Homo sapiens: one gene and its partners. The protein of the gene in region 2 purifies or fractionates together with the protein of the main gene of each other region. This does not show direct contact. Each region holds a gene or a part of one and is shown on either strand. Other genes may lie near its edges.

Evidence for each region. The genes of interacting proteins can lie anywhere in the genome.
Region 1: the proteins of ZBP1 (region 2) and ORC3 purify together in Homo sapiens (affinity purification with mass spectrometry, with the first as the bait; one large-scale study listed by BioGRID). This does not show direct contact.
Region 3: the proteins of ZBP1 (region 2) and ZNF740 purify together in Homo sapiens (affinity purification with mass spectrometry; one large-scale study listed by BioGRID and IntAct). This does not show direct contact.
Region 4: the proteins of ZBP1 (region 2) and MLKL purify together in Homo sapiens (affinity purification with western blotting, with the first as the bait; one study listed by BioGRID). This does not show direct contact.

Annotation. Positions count from the first base shown.
Region 1 is NC_000006.12:87,600,135-87,603,634, reverse strand, and holds part of ORC3 (origin recognition complex subunit 3), read right to left. Parts: intron 1,852-3,500; coding exon 1,754-1,851; intron 252-1,753; coding exon 107-251; intron 1-106. UniProt on the Homo sapiens protein: Component of the origin recognition complex (ORC) that binds origins of replication. DNA-binding is ATP-dependent. The specific DNA sequences that define origins of replication have not been identified yet.
Region 2 is NC_000020.11:57,603,427-57,606,926, forward strand, and holds the end of ZBP1 (Z-DNA-binding protein 1), read right to left. Parts: exon of another isoform or gene 3,387-3,500; intron 2,076-3,386; exon of another isoform or gene 1,987-2,075; intron 1,344-1,986; coding exon 1,147-1,343; 3' UTR 426-1,146; downstream 1-425.
Region 3 is NC_000012.12:53,179,459-53,183,521, reverse strand, and holds the start of ZNF740 (zinc finger protein 740), read right to left. Parts: upstream 2,801-4,063; 5' UTR 2,685-2,800; exon of another isoform or gene 2,597-2,684; intron 2,297-2,596; exon of another isoform or gene 2,171-2,296; intron 1,846-2,170; 5' UTR 1,539-1,845; coding exon 1,530-1,538; intron 1-1,529. Other genes in the region: CSAD (cysteine sulfinic acid decarboxylase), read left to right, coding at 3,714-3,745. UniProt on the Homo sapiens protein: May be involved in transcriptional regulation.
Region 4 is NC_000016.10:74,683,863-74,687,362, reverse strand, and holds part of MLKL (mixed lineage kinase domain-like protein), read left to right. Parts: intron 1-1,779; coding exon 1,780-1,877; intron 1,878-3,500. UniProt on the Homo sapiens protein: Pseudokinase that plays a key role in TNF-induced necroptosis, a programmed cell death process. Does not have protein kinase activity.

The DNA.
Region 1 (3,500 bases), on a different chromosome or scaffold from region 2:
AAATAGGCTCATCAAAACAGGTCCTTCCACTATTCTCAACAATAAAAAAAAATTTAAAAACGAAATACACAGAGATGCATGCATGAACAAACATACGCATATATACCAAGAACAAGAGCAGCAGTTGGAATTTCTCTGAGTTTTATTTGACCGCCCAAGTCTCTTGAATTCTTCTGGAATCCAGAATGTGATTTTTGCAGAAATTCAATCAGATTGTCAAACAAGTTTTTATTTAATTCCTCTTGTAGTCGCTACAAAGAACACACAAAAACTTATTATTATTAGAAATAATAATCTGATGTCTTTCCTGGTTGTGGAAAGAAAATTGTCATGGATTCAATGATGTAAAATGATCAAAAGATGAACCTAATTAAAAAATGTTTTTTCCTTAAATCTCTAGTAATTAGTGCTCTGGGTTCCCCCATTAAAAATTCCCTCTCAAGCCTGGTCGGCATAGTGAGACCTCATCTTTTTAGATAAAAGACAAATTAGCTGGGTGTAGTGGTGCACATCTGTGGTCCCAGCTTCTAGGGAAGCTGAGGTGAGAGGGTCACTTGAGTCTGGGAGGTCAAGGCTGCAGTAAGCTATGATCATGCCACTACACGCCAGCCTGGGTGACAGAGCAAGACCTTGTCTCAAAAAAAAAAATTGTATATATATATGTATATATATATATATATTATATATGTGTATATATATATAAACGTGTATATATATATATAATATATAATATATATATGATATATGACATTAAAGGGTTTGGATTTTGTCCTATGGGGAGCACCACTGAAGGGATGTGAAGTAAAGACATAATTGGATCAGGGTTAAGAAGGGTTAATCTGGCAACAGGGCTGGAGGGGTTGCCTGGAATTGGGCTGCATTTGCCTTGAAAAGGGTCTTTTCTAATTTGGCCAATGGTGTCAGGGATGCCAGTCAGGAGGATATAACAATCCAGATTCAGAAATGAAGACGGCCTAAACTGGAAACCACAAATTCAAATACCTTGAAGGATCACATGGAATACGTGAATGAGCCTTTGCTCATTACCACTAGGTGTAAATCAGTAAGGACTGGTAGGCGGCAGTAATAAACTGGAAAGTATATAACCTTCCGAAAGGCAATTAAACCAAAAACTACAACACTGTGTTGGCCAAAAAAAAAAAAAAAGTTGTCAGCCTAAAATGCTGGCCCTAGAGCTACCAATTTGCTATAGTGAAGAAATGTTTCAGAGCTGGAATATAAAGATGAGAAAGTGAAGGAGTTTAGAAACAGCTTGATTTCACAGTTGTATACCTGAAAGGATAATTTAAGAGCGTCACCATTTGAAAGCTCCTTGCCTTAACAGCTATCATAAACATCTGTTCCACTCACAAGAAATATGAGTTTTTTTTGTTTTTGTTTTTGAGACAAGATCTCTCTCTGCTGCCCAGGCTGGAGTGCCGTGGTACTATCTCGGCTCACTGCAACCTCCACCTCCCAGGCTCAAGTTATCCTCCCAACTTAGCCTCCTGAGTAGCTGGAATTACAAGTGCACACCACCATGCCCAGCTAGTTTTTGTAGCTTTTGTAGAGACAGGGTTTCACCAAGTTGCCCAGGCTGGATTATGGTTGTTTTTTTAAGGATATACAGGCTATGCTTGACCAATACTTCCTATATTTCATCAATACTCTTGTAAACTGGTGGAAAGGAAGATGAGATGCAACAAAAATGAGACTTAGGGTGTTACAGAAAATTATTAAAAAAAGTATTCACCTCATTTTCAGATTTCATCTGCTGCCATATCAACTGATAAGTTTCGAATCGAAGCTTACTGTCCTCAGGCTCATTTTTCCCTTTGTTAAAATAGTCCTCTAAAAACAGAAAGAAATAAGTCAGTTTCTTTTTTCATATAATAGTATAAGTTATAGATCTTACGTGCAAAGTTACACAGTAAGTGACAGAAGTGAAATTTTTTTTTTTTTTGATATGGAGTCTCACTCTGTCACCCAGGCTGGAGTGCAGTGGCATGATGTTGGCTCAGTGCGATCTCCGCCTCCCAGGTTCAAGTGATTCTCTCCTGCCTCAGCCTCCCGAGTGGCTGTGACTACAGGCACGTGCCACCACGCCCGCTCAATTTTGTATTTTTAGTAGAGATGGGGTTTCACCATGTTGGCCAGGCTGGTCTCAAACTCCTGACCTCAAGTGATCTGCCCACCTTGGCCTCCCAAAGTACTGGGATTACAAGTGTGAGCCACCTTGCCTGGCCTTAATTTTTTTTACATTCATCAAAAACATATATTTGGGGACAGGTAACATTCAATATCCTCTGTATTTCATTTTTTATAATCTTTTATTTTTACCATATTTATGGCATATTTAAGATTAAAAATGTCAATCTTTCTACTGTATTTCTATCATTTGCTTTTTAATTTCTAACAGTTTTTATTAAGTGGCTTTTTTGAGTTATATACATTTAATAATGTTTTCATTATTTGCTGTTATTCTACAACCTTGTATACTTTGTTTCATACATTTGCTTTGAACTCTCCTCTATTGAATGACTTACTACTACTATTCTTACATTTTTCCACTGACATAGTTTAGTCCAGTCTTTCATTTATTCTGTCTGTATATTTTTGTATCCTTTTTGAATGCTTTCTCCAAATGGTTAGCTATTTGTGAAAATACCATTTATTGCACTGGCTTTCAAACTTTTCAAACTATAATCCACATTAAGGAATACACTTTATATCATAACCTAACACATATACACATGAACAAAAACTAAAGTCACAAAAAACAACACTCACCCTTATTATGTAATAGCAAATGTTTTCTTTCCTGTTTTATACTCATAGTCCACTAAATTGATTTCATAACTCACACATAAATTATGACATTTGGTTTGAAAAACCCTCCTTTATTGTACAATCCATCCTTCTCCCGCTGATTTGACATGCCCTTATAGTCTAAATACTTATATATACTTTGAACTATGTTTGAACTTTTTATTTTGTTCTACTGAATCCAACCCTATTCTCCTACCAGTCTTGAACTGTTTTAATTATTATGGCTTTGTATGTTGTACATTTTATCAAATACATTTAGGTCTTCCTCCCACTGCCCCCAAACATTGTTATTCTCTTTCAAAAAAATTTAAGCCACTTCTTCAAATTAATTTTACAGTAATCCTGTCACTTCTCAAAACTAGTTGTACTGGTATTTGACTAGATAAAATCAAATCCATAGACTGATTTGGGGAAAAATCCCATCTTTAATATGTTAAAAAATCCCCAACCCCAATATCACAGGTCTCTTTTTTTAATCAAATATTTTAGATTCCTTATAGTTTTCTACTTTCCCTCATATTTCTTGTTGTTTACTGCTACGTATTTTATTGTAACAACTGGAGTGTTCACGTTAAATTTCTGCTGCTAATAATCTACCACCAAGTTTTAATGTTAACTGATAGTTTGGAATATAAATTCACTTCATGTTAAGGAACTTCTCTCCTAATCAT
Region 2 (3,500 bases):
GCTGAGGAGAGAAGATTCTAGAAAGGTCGGGTGATAAGGAGGTCAGGTGGCCACAATGGGCCTTGAGGAAGTGAGACCTCAGGTGAGGAGAGAGTGGGGCAGTGTTTCAGTTGGCTCAGGCTGCTATAAAAAAATGCCTCACCCTGGGTAATTTATAAGCAACAGGAATTTATTGCTTACAGTTTCGGGGTCTGGGAAGGCCAAGATCAAGGTGCCAGCAGAGTCAGTGTCTGATGAGGGGTTGGTCTCGGCTTTAAGGATGGCACTTTGTTACTGCATCCTCACATGGCGGACAGGCAAGCGGGACTAACAGGCTCCCTCAAGCCCTTTCATGGCAGCGCTAATCCCACAATCCCACTCGCCCTCCTGACTCCATCCCCTCCAAAAGGCCCCATCTCTTCATACCACTGCACTGGGGATTATGGTTGGTTTATTTTTTATTTATGTATTTATTTTTTTGAGACGGAGTCTCGCTCTGTCGCCCAGCCTGGAGTGCAGTGGCGCGATCTCGGCTCACTGGAAGCTCCACCTCCCGGGTTCACACCATTCTCCTCCCTCAGCCTCCGGAGTAGCTGGGACTCCAGGTGCCCGCCACAACGCCCGGCTAATTTTTTGTATTTTTTTTTTTAGTAGAGACGGGGTTTCACCATGTTAGCCAGGACGGTCTGGATTTCCTGACCTATTGATCCGCCCGCCTCGGCCTCCCAAAGTGCTGGGATTACAGGCGTGAGCCACTGCACCCAGTTGGGATTATGTTTTGATATGAATTTTGTTGGGACTCAAACATTCAAACCACAGCAGGTAGCCATGATGGAAGGTAACTCCAGGCAGATGCCCCGAGCCCAGGAAAGAGTGGAGAGAGTCCCCTGGGCCTGGGGGACCGAGCCCCACTCCCATCTACCCACCTCCTCTTGGCACACCAAAGGTTCCCCAAGGCAACTCCCTGTCATCTACTCCTGGCCATCAAAAGACCTGGCCTGAACCCATCCCCATGCCAGGTCCATTCCCCCAAAACTGATTCATGCAGGTTATGTCTGGAAGCAAGCAGGTCAAACAAGACGCTAAGGAATGCAGAGAGCAGCAGGCTAGTCTCCCTAGCATGCGCCCACCCCCAGCCTGTGTCCAAGCCCCACGTGAGGCTGTGCACTAAATCCCACCTCCCCACCAGCTCCCCTCGTGTGAGGCTTCATCCACATAGTGGCTGCCTTCTGCAGCTTTGTGACTCCTGTTTCCAAGAGTCATAGTTTCCAGCTTGGGGGTGAGCTTCGAGTGGCTGGGAGTGATGGGCTGACCAATGTCTCGAGGAAAGTGACTTCTGGATTGTGTGTCTGCGGGACGACGACCTAGGGAAGAGAAGATGGGGGATCAGCTTCATGGGCACGTGGCCTGGGCATTTCCACAGGGACCCGCTCTTGGAAGGATTTCGAGCTCAGCTTGAGCCTTTGTTGTTACTGTCTTTAGATTTGTACAAAGTCTTGAACAGGGAGCCCCACCTTTTCACTTTGCACTGGGCCCCCAGATCATGTAGCCAGTCCTGTCCTAGTTTCACAGCAGTGAGATGGAGGAGCAGAAATAACACCAGAAAGCCCCCATCCCAGGGCTCTCCCAGTCCTCCCAGGGACCCCAAAAGACGGCTCTACATGCTCTGGCACTGACAGTCTCTGATTAGCAATTTCCTCAAACAAAACAAAACAAAACAAAACAAAACAAAACAAAAACCATTCCAGGCCTTACACATCTCAGGATAAGGTCCCGCCCGCCACTCAAGGAGGAAGTGACAGGCAGACCTCATTTTATCTCACTTTACCTTATTGTACTTTGGTTTATTACACTTCATAGATATTGCACTCATTTTTCACAAGTTGAAGGTTTGTGGCACCCTGTGTGAAGCGAGTCTATCAGTGCCAATTTTTCCAGCAGCATATGCTCACTTCCTGTCTCTGCGTCACATTTTGGTAATCCTCACAATATTTCACACTTTTTCATTTTGATTATATGTGTTATGGTGATCTGTGACCAGTGATCTTTGATGTTGCTATTATAATTGCTTTGCTTTGGGGTGCCACAAATATCACCTGTAGAAGATGACGAAGTTAATTAATAAATCTGTGTGCTCTAACCTGTCACTGATCAGCCATCTCCTCCTCTCTCTCCCTCTCCTCAGGCCTCCCTATTCCTTGAAGACACAACAATATTGAAATTAGGAAAATTCATAACCCTACAATGGGCCGGGCGCCGTGGGTCACACCTAGAATCCCAACACTTTGGGAGGCTGAGGTGGGCAGATCACCTGAGGTTGGGAGTTCAAGACCAGCCTGACCTACATGGAGAAACCCCATCTCTACTAAAAATACAAAGTTAGCCAGGCGTGGTGGTGCAGGTCTGTAATCACAGCGACCCAGGAGGCTGAAGCAAAAGAATCCCTTGAACCTGGGAGGTGGAGGTTGCAGTGAGCCAAGATTGTGCCATTGCACTCCAGCCTAGACAACGAGAGCAAAACTCCATCTCAAAAATAAATAAATAAATAAATAAATAACCCCAAACGGCCTCTATGTGCTAAAGTGAAAGGAAGAGTTGCACGTCTCTCACTTTAAATCAAAAGTGAGAAATGATTAAGCTTGGTGAGGGAGGCATGTCCAAAGCTAAGACAAGTTGAAAGCTAGGTCAAAAGTTAGCCAAATTGTGAAGGCAAAGGAAAGGGTCTTGAAGGATATTAAAAGTCTTACTTCAGCAAACACATGAGTGATGAGAAAGTGAACCAGCCTTGTGGCTAGTGTGGAGAAAGTTTTAGTGGTCTGGATAGAGGATCGAGCCAGCTACAACAATCTCTTAAACCTAAGCCTCGTCTAGGGCAAGGCCCTTGCTCTATTCAATTCTAAAGGCTGAGAGAGGTGAGGAAGCTGCAGAAGAATAGTTGGAAGTGAGCAGAGGTTGGTTCATGAGGTTTAAGGAAAGAAACCGTCCCCATAACATGCAAGTGTGAGGTGAAGCAGCAAGTGCTGATGGAGAAGCTGCAGCAGGTTACCCGGAAGCTCTAGCTAAGATCATTGATGAGCGTGACTACACAACAGAGCAGGTTCTTAATGTAGATGAAACAGCCTTCTATTGAAAAAAGATGTCATCTAGAACTTTCATAACTCGAAAGGAGATGTCAATGCCTGGCTTCAAAGCTTCAAAGGGGACAGGCTCTCTTGTTGGAGATTAATGTAGCTGGTGACTTTCAGCTGAAGCCTCTCCTCAATTACCATTTTGGAAATTCTAGGGCCCTTAAGAATGATGCTAAATCGACTCTGCCTATGTTCTATGAATGAAGCAACAAAGCTAGATGAGAGCACCTGTATATAGCTTGGTTTACTGAATATTTTAAGCCTAGCATTGAGACTTACTGCTTAGAAAACAAAATATTCCTTTGAACATTTCACTGCTCATCGTCCATACCACAGGATCTGAGTGTTCCGCATCCTGGATTGAGGGCCAAAAAAAAATTTTTTTTTTACTAC
Region 3 (4,063 bases), on a different chromosome or scaffold from region 2:
AAGAAAATACTTTTCTTACTGAAAAAAAAAATTTTAAGAAATCGTTGGTCAGCAAACTCACAAATTTATGAAGAAATTCCTTTTAGATGATCAGTACGTTCTGGGACCCCTCCCTCCACCTTCTGGGACTTTGGAGTGAAAGATCCAGAGTTAAAATCTTAGCTCAGCTGTTTGCACTCTATAATCTTGGGCAAGTTATTCCACCTTTGCAAGCCTTAGTTTCCTTACATGAAAAATGCCTGTCATAATGCTTATCCTTACAGGGTTGATGAAAAGTAAACTAAGACGTAAAACGCTTAACAGTGTCTAGCACAAAGTTCAGTCCTTAGTGGAAGGCAGCATTCTCAGAAGACTGAATACAATGCTGAGAAGTGGGTTGCAAAACACAAAGGAAGAAGAAACTGACAGGCTCCTATTCTATATGGAAAGGAGGAAGCTGTGCATTCAGAAGCAGCTGGAGGAAAGCCAATTATACTACAATCAGACTGCCATCCTGGTGAGACTGGTAGGGAGGTTCCCTAGAAGCAAGCTGGGAGAAGCTCTGGAGATGTGTGCACATAGCTATTCTACTCAGATGACTACAACAGCCTATCTGCTCATTCTGTCTCTCCAGTCCATCCTCTACCTCCACAATAATGACCTTCTACATAACACTGATCTGATGCTACTCTGCTGCTTAACTTAGCGAGGCATAAAAGGCCTTTGGGTTACACTCTGCTTACTGCAGGGAACAACTTCCTCACCTATCACTGTCAATACTACCTCCATAACTATCCCCATTTAAATCCCTTACTCCGTAACTATCAAACAACCTGCAGTACTCGGAACCTCATCACATTTTCCCATGACTCTAAGCTCCTGCCCATGCTGTTCCTTTTGTCCAAACACCCTTCTCGCTTGTTTAGCAAAATCCTATGCATCTTTCAACCTCCATCTTCTTTTTCTATCCAAGCAGAAGTACTGTTCTCTCCTATGTACATACCCCTATTATTGCACATTCCTCAATCAACAGATTCAGAGTCTCTACTACTAGCCAGCCACTATACAAGGCATTGTGAATATAAAAATAAATGGCTTTCCATCCCTCTCCCGACCCCAACTAGCCTGGAAGCTCACTGGGGACAAGGACAATCGTATTCATCTTTGTATTCCCAGCACAATGCCTTGCATGCAACAGGAACTCAATAAATTCCTGTTGGAAAAAAACAAAAGAAGCATTCACCGTACTATTCACTCCCTTACACCCCTCAGCACTTAATGTACCAAATGTAAACTGAGTACACGTTGCTTTGCAAATGTCCCATCAGTGCCTGTGATGCAGTATAGCCTACCTCCTTCATTTGACTGGAAGCTCCCTGAAGGCAGGGGCTGTGGCCTGTCTCCTTTCCTTCCTCTAGATCTCCCCCTGGTGCTTAATACAGAGCTTGGATCACTGGGGTTGGTCAATATGTTGACTAAGGCAGCATTCAAGAGTGAAACTGCAAACAGGCTTCCCAGTTATCTTGGAGGAGGACTCTAGAGCTTTTTACCTGAGCCATGCTGATTTCTCACTTAAGGCAACCCAAAAGTTCAGGAGTTCCTAGGTCCACCTTTCCTTGAGACACTGTCGTTTTGAAGAACTGTCACCAAATCACGGTAGCGACTCCTTCGTGTCCCATCAGTCCTGTTGCCATATTGAACTTTGTCTTCAAATAGAACTTAGTGTCCTCCGAAGAAAAGATAGGTGTTCCAAGAATCCCTGGACTCTGCCTGGCTCCTGCCTATTGTCTGAAGAAAAAGAGAGTCTACCAGTCTTGGTTTTCCAGTTGAATTCTCTTGATGAAGCTCACGATCTGTTTCAGAAACCTGAAACCAGAAAGGAAGAGGGGGGCTGCTAAATGCAACATCTTCAGGCCATTACAACGTGCGATATGAATTTTTTTTTTGCTGGGCGCTCTCTGTGAAGCTCAGAACGAGGACATGAGTCAAGAAGAGTTTTCTTTCTAGGTCAATAGGAGGAACTGGTCTCCTGGGCAAGGAGTGGAAGCCAACAGGAGCAAAAGTAATTGGGGCCTCCTATGGAGGAACTCTGCCAAAAGGAAAGTTGCTTGGATTTGCCATCTCAGGAATGGAAGAAGGGGGCGGAGACCCTTTGGGGCTTTTGTGCCCAGTGGGCCGGCCCGAAAAGCTCGCACTTTACAGAGGCGGCAAGACTAGGGTGGAGGAAAGCTCAAGGGCCATCGCTGGGTGCTTCGGTGGCGGGCAGAAACGGGACTGGCAGTGCCCACACGTGTGCGTTCTCCCCGTCCGCCCGAAGGTAGGGAAACTTGCTGCGGAGGTGGAGGACAGGCAGGCGAAGCCCGGCGCGGCGTGTCGCCCGCCTCGCTCCGGCCAGCCAGCCTCTGCACCCGCTGCACCAACCGGGAGCAGAGCCGGAGAGTGCCGAGAAGCGCGCGAGATGCGTGCTCGCGCCCGCGTCCCCTCCGAGAGCCCTCTCCCGGGCCGGGGACGCGGCGGGACGCGCGGGCAGGGGGCGGTGTGCGCGCACGGCCTTTCCCCTCCCTCCCCCGGAGATCCCCCTCCCTTCGCCACGCGCCCCTCCTCCCCTCCCCTCCCCCTTCCCGCGCGGCACCCCACGGCTTGCGAGCTACTGAAGCGCTGCCGTCTGTACGGACGACGCTGCGGTCTTTGGGGCTTGCTCCTACCTGCCAGGCGCGGCCTCCCGCTGGCTCCCTGGCCGCGCGGCGCCTCCTCCAGGCCCCAGCACACCCTGCCAACCCCACCGCCGCGGCTGCCCCCACCGGGACCGAGGCAAGTTTACAAACACCAACCCCGGCCCGTTTCCCCGGAAGCACTTCCCCCTCCCCCTCGTCCTCTCCGCCGAGCGGCTGCATCCACTTCCGGGCTCGGCAGCTAGACTAGCGGGGGCAGCCTCAGAGCGGGTGAGCTTGGGGACGCACGGAGAGGTGCAGCTGGGTGAGTGGGCGGCGCCGTGCGCCGAGGGCATGGAGGAGGGAGCGCTGAGGCCGGCGCGTGCGCCGTGGCCGGGGCGCGCCCCGGCCGCCATCGAGACTGAGGGCAGGACCCTCGGCCCTTCGATGATTGTACGCTGGGTGCTCGATGGGAGGAGGGTTTGCTGGGTGAGCTGGTTCAGACTCCTTGAAAAATCATCGTCACTCTTTCTTCCTCGCGGACGTCCTGCCCATCGCTCTGAGCCGGCGCCCCAAGTAGAGCCAGAGTAGTTCGTACCCAGCCTTTTCACGTAACTCGGCCGAGGTGGTTCTTCTCCGAATTTTTTCCGTCAGGCCCAGATTAGCAGATTTTGGGGTCAGCTGGGAGAGGCGTTAACTTTTCTTCGCACACTCTTGCTTTGTGCGCTCAACCACAGTCTGAATTCTCGCAGAGGCGTTCCTTGAGTAGCCCTTGGCCACACTGCTCACCTCCCTGCAGAAGTCAAAGCCCCAGCCCTCCTCTGCGAATCCCGAGGCCAGCCTGGTTGGTTACCTTCTCCCCTTCGCCCTTTACTCCAGGCCGTCCAGCATCAAACACTAGCCTCCACACGTGGAAAAGACCCTGACTCCCACAGTAGACTAGTCTTATGGGAGTCCTGGCTCTTGGGCCAGGCTGCATTAGGAAAATGGAAACCAGACTGTCTTCAAATTCTTCTGCCTAGCCTTAGCCATTAGAGAGAGGTCCTGCTAAAGATGGACTGCAAATGCGCTTGATGGAAGGAGATGTCAATTCCACTGAAGTCCTCATTTCTGCTGTAGGTGATATTATGTCGTGACTTTAGGAGAAGTAATGGTGATACCAAAAGAAAAAAAAAACTGTATGATGAAAAAAAGACAAGGATTCTCAACTTTTTTTTTTTTGTAGACAGATTTCATTTCCCTGAGCCACTCCATGATTTGGGCCATTGAAAGTACGTTTTTTGTGTTTTAGGATCATTCTAAAATAGAGACAAAATGGAGAAAGAGAGAGATAAAGAAACATCACCAGGAATAAGTCTTTTAAATCTTTTTTGAAAATTAGCTCCTACTTATTTTACAAATCGACACAACGCAAAAGTATAAAAGACACAAAA
Region 4 (3,500 bases), on a different chromosome or scaffold from region 2:
GAAAATGTTACCATCTTAATGGTATAAAGTCTTCCTATTCAAGAACATGGGACGTGTTTCCATTTATTTAGATCTTTTAAAATTTCTTGCTGGGTGCAGTGAGTTATGCCTATAATCCCAGCACTTTGGGAGGCTGAGGCAGGAGGATCACCTGAGGTCAGGAGTTCGAGACTAGTCTGGCCAACATGGTGAAACCCCGCCTCTACTATAAATACAAAAATTAGCCGGGCATGGTAGCAAGCGCCTGTAATCCCAGCTATTCGGGAGGCTGAGGCAGGAGAATTGCTTGAACCCAGGAGGCAGAGGTTGCAGTGAGCCGAGATCATGCCATTGCACTCAGCCTGGGCGACAAAAGTGAGGCTCCATCTCAAAAAACAAACAAACAAAACAAAACAAAATTCTTTCAACAATTTAGGTACAAAATTTTCAGGGTGAGACTTGCACTTCTTTTGTAAATTTATTCCTAAGTATTTTATTCTCTTTATGCTATTGGAAATGAAAATTTTTAATTTAATCTTTTGATTGTTAATTGCTAGCAGATAGAAATACAATTGATTTTTATAGGCTCTGAACCTGCCCTGATTCTCTGACAGACCTTGGACAAGCCTCCTTTGCCCTTTGAGTCTAAGACTCAGAGTGAATGAACAGATTGGATTGAGTTGGTGGTTCCAGTGATCCTCTTTAATAATTTACCTGCCTACATTTTTTAAGGCCCACGTTTTGGAAGGAATTTTGGTTATAAGATTTCACTTAATAAATATCTTTTTTTGTGTGTGTGTGGAGACGTAGTCTCGTTCTGTCACCCAGGCTGGAGTGCAATGGTGTGATCTCGGCTCACTGCAAGCTCCACCTCCTGGGTTCACGCCGTTCTCCTGCCTCAGCCTCCCAAGTAGCTGGGGCTACAGGCGCCCGCCACCACACCCAGCTAATTTTTTTGTATTTTTAGTAGAGACGGGGTTTCACCATGTTCGGCAGGATTGTCTCGAACTCCTGACCTTGTGATCCACCTGCCTCGGCCTCCCAAAGTGCTGGGATTACAGGCATGAGCCACCACGCCCGGCCTAGTATCATTATTTTTATTCATCAAAGACACACACCACGGGCTGGGCACGGTGACTCACACCTGAAATCCCAGCACTTTGGGAGGCGTAGGCAGGCAAATCACTTGAGGCCAGGAGTTTGACACCAGCCTGGCCAACATGGTGAAATCATGTCTCTGCAAAAAAAATACAAAAATTAGCCAAGCATGGTGGCACGCACCTGTAGTTCCAGCTACTCAGGTGGCTGAGGCATGAGAATTGCTTCAACCTGGGAGGTGGAGGCTGCAGTGAGCCAAGATCGCACCACTGCACTCCAGCCTGGGTGACAAAGCAAGACCCTGTCTCCAAAAAAAAAAAAAAGACACACACCACAATCTGTCAGAGTATATGCTAAACAACAGGTTACAGCCTAAAAACAGTAACAAATACTTGACTTTTTAGTTTGCCTAGTAAAGCCCTGTAGGTCATAAAAATACAATTCTATCAGACTATTTGAACTACTGAAAAGATATTAGCAAGTCCCATTAATATCTGACAGACCCCGAGGGACTAATTGTGCTGCCACAGGCACCTGAGGGGTTCCACATGTTGTTATCAGTAGCTGAGTTCATCCTGGCACCAGTTCTCACCCCAGATGCTGATACCCCCGCCCCCACATACACAGAGGGTCACCACACTGAATGTTCTCTAAGGAACCTTCCAGTTCTGAAATCCTGATTTCTCTCTTTAATCCTTATAGAATAGTGAGGCAGACTTTCAATAAGGAGATCAAAACCATGAAGAAATTCGAATCTCCCAACATCCTGCGTATATTTGGGATTTGCATTGATGAAACAGGTAAGGAATGCTTCTAGGATTGGTCAAGCTTTGGATGGCCTAGAACACACCTCCTGTGTTTTAATGTGTTGCATTTTTTTAAAGAACATCACAAAGGGTGGAATCCACAAAGTGTGATTATTATCAATGTTAATTTTTTTTTTTTCATCCCAAGATGCATGTTCTCATCTTCTTTCAGGAGGGCAGGGCTGAAGGCTGAGGGGTGGTTTGCACTAACATGGCCACATCTTCTCCTTTCAGCCCACTGGGAAATAAGGGGGTGCATGTTTAGATGCCAGCCTGGAAGAGGGGTGCATCTTGTTGCTCTAAAACATTATAAAGCTGCCAGGTGCAGTGGCTCACACCTGTAATCCCAGCACTTTGGTAAGCCGAGACAGGCAGGTCACTTGAGGTCAGGAGTTCAAGACCAGCCCAGCCAACATGGTGAAACCCCATCTCTACTAAAATACAAAAATTAGCTGGGTCTGGTGGCAGGCATCTGTAGTCCCAGCTACTCGGGAGGCTGAGGTGGGAGAATTGCTTGAACCTGGGAAGCGGAGGTTGCAGTGAGCTGAGGGTGCACCATTGCATTCCAGCCTGGGCAACAGAGCAAGACTCCGTCTCAAAAATAAAAATAAATTATAAAGCTGTCTGACCCAAAGAAGGAAAACACCCTTGGTCATCATTAGTATAGAACAAATCTAAAAGCAAAATTAACTTACCTGGCCAGGCGCTGTGGCTCAGCAGCACTTAGGGAGGCTGAGGTGGGTGGATCACAAGGTCAGGAGCTTGAGACCGTCCTGGCCAACATGATGAAACCCCGTCTCTACTAAAAATACAAAAAATTAGCCGGATGTGGTGGCACATGCCTCTAGTCCCAGCTACTCGGGAGGCTGAGGCAGGAGAATTGCTTGAACCTGGGAGGCGGAGTTTGCAGTGAGCCGAGATCATGCCACTGCACTCCAGCCTGGGTGACAGAGTGAGACTCTGTCTCAAACAAACAAAAAAAAAAACCATTACTTTACCCCTCTACCAAGAGCCTTATGTGACAGGCTCTTTTTTTTTTTTTTTTTTTCTTTTTTTCCCAATGTGACTGCATTTTCTCTCATGGAATGACCCCTCCTGCTGGTCATGTTTTGCTGCCGTCTTGCCTAGAGATTGGACAGAGCAACTCCTGTCTTATCCCCTTTGGAAGTTGCTCCACAGCCTCAGGCCAACTTGATTTCAGAGTGTGGAATCCCAATCTAAAGGGAAACGTAGGCCAGGCACGGTGGCTCACATCTGTAATCCCAGCACTTTGGGAGGCCAAGGTAGGTGGATCACCTGAGGTCAGGAGTTTGAGACCAGCCTGGCCAACATGATAAAACCCTGTCTCTACTAAAAATATAAAAATTAACTGGGCGTGGTGGTGGGTGCCTGTAGTCCCAGCTACTCGGGAGGCTGAGGCAGGAGAATTGCGTGAACCTGGGAGGCGGAGGTTGCAGTGAGCCAATATCATGCCACTGCACTCCAGCCTGGGTGACAGAGCTAGACTCTGTCTCAAAAAAATTAAAAAATAAAAAATAAAGACAAATGTTCAGCAACGTTTGTTCTCCTTGGGGACCGCTGAGGTGCCTGGCTCAGTCACATGTCAGTTTTGCAGCT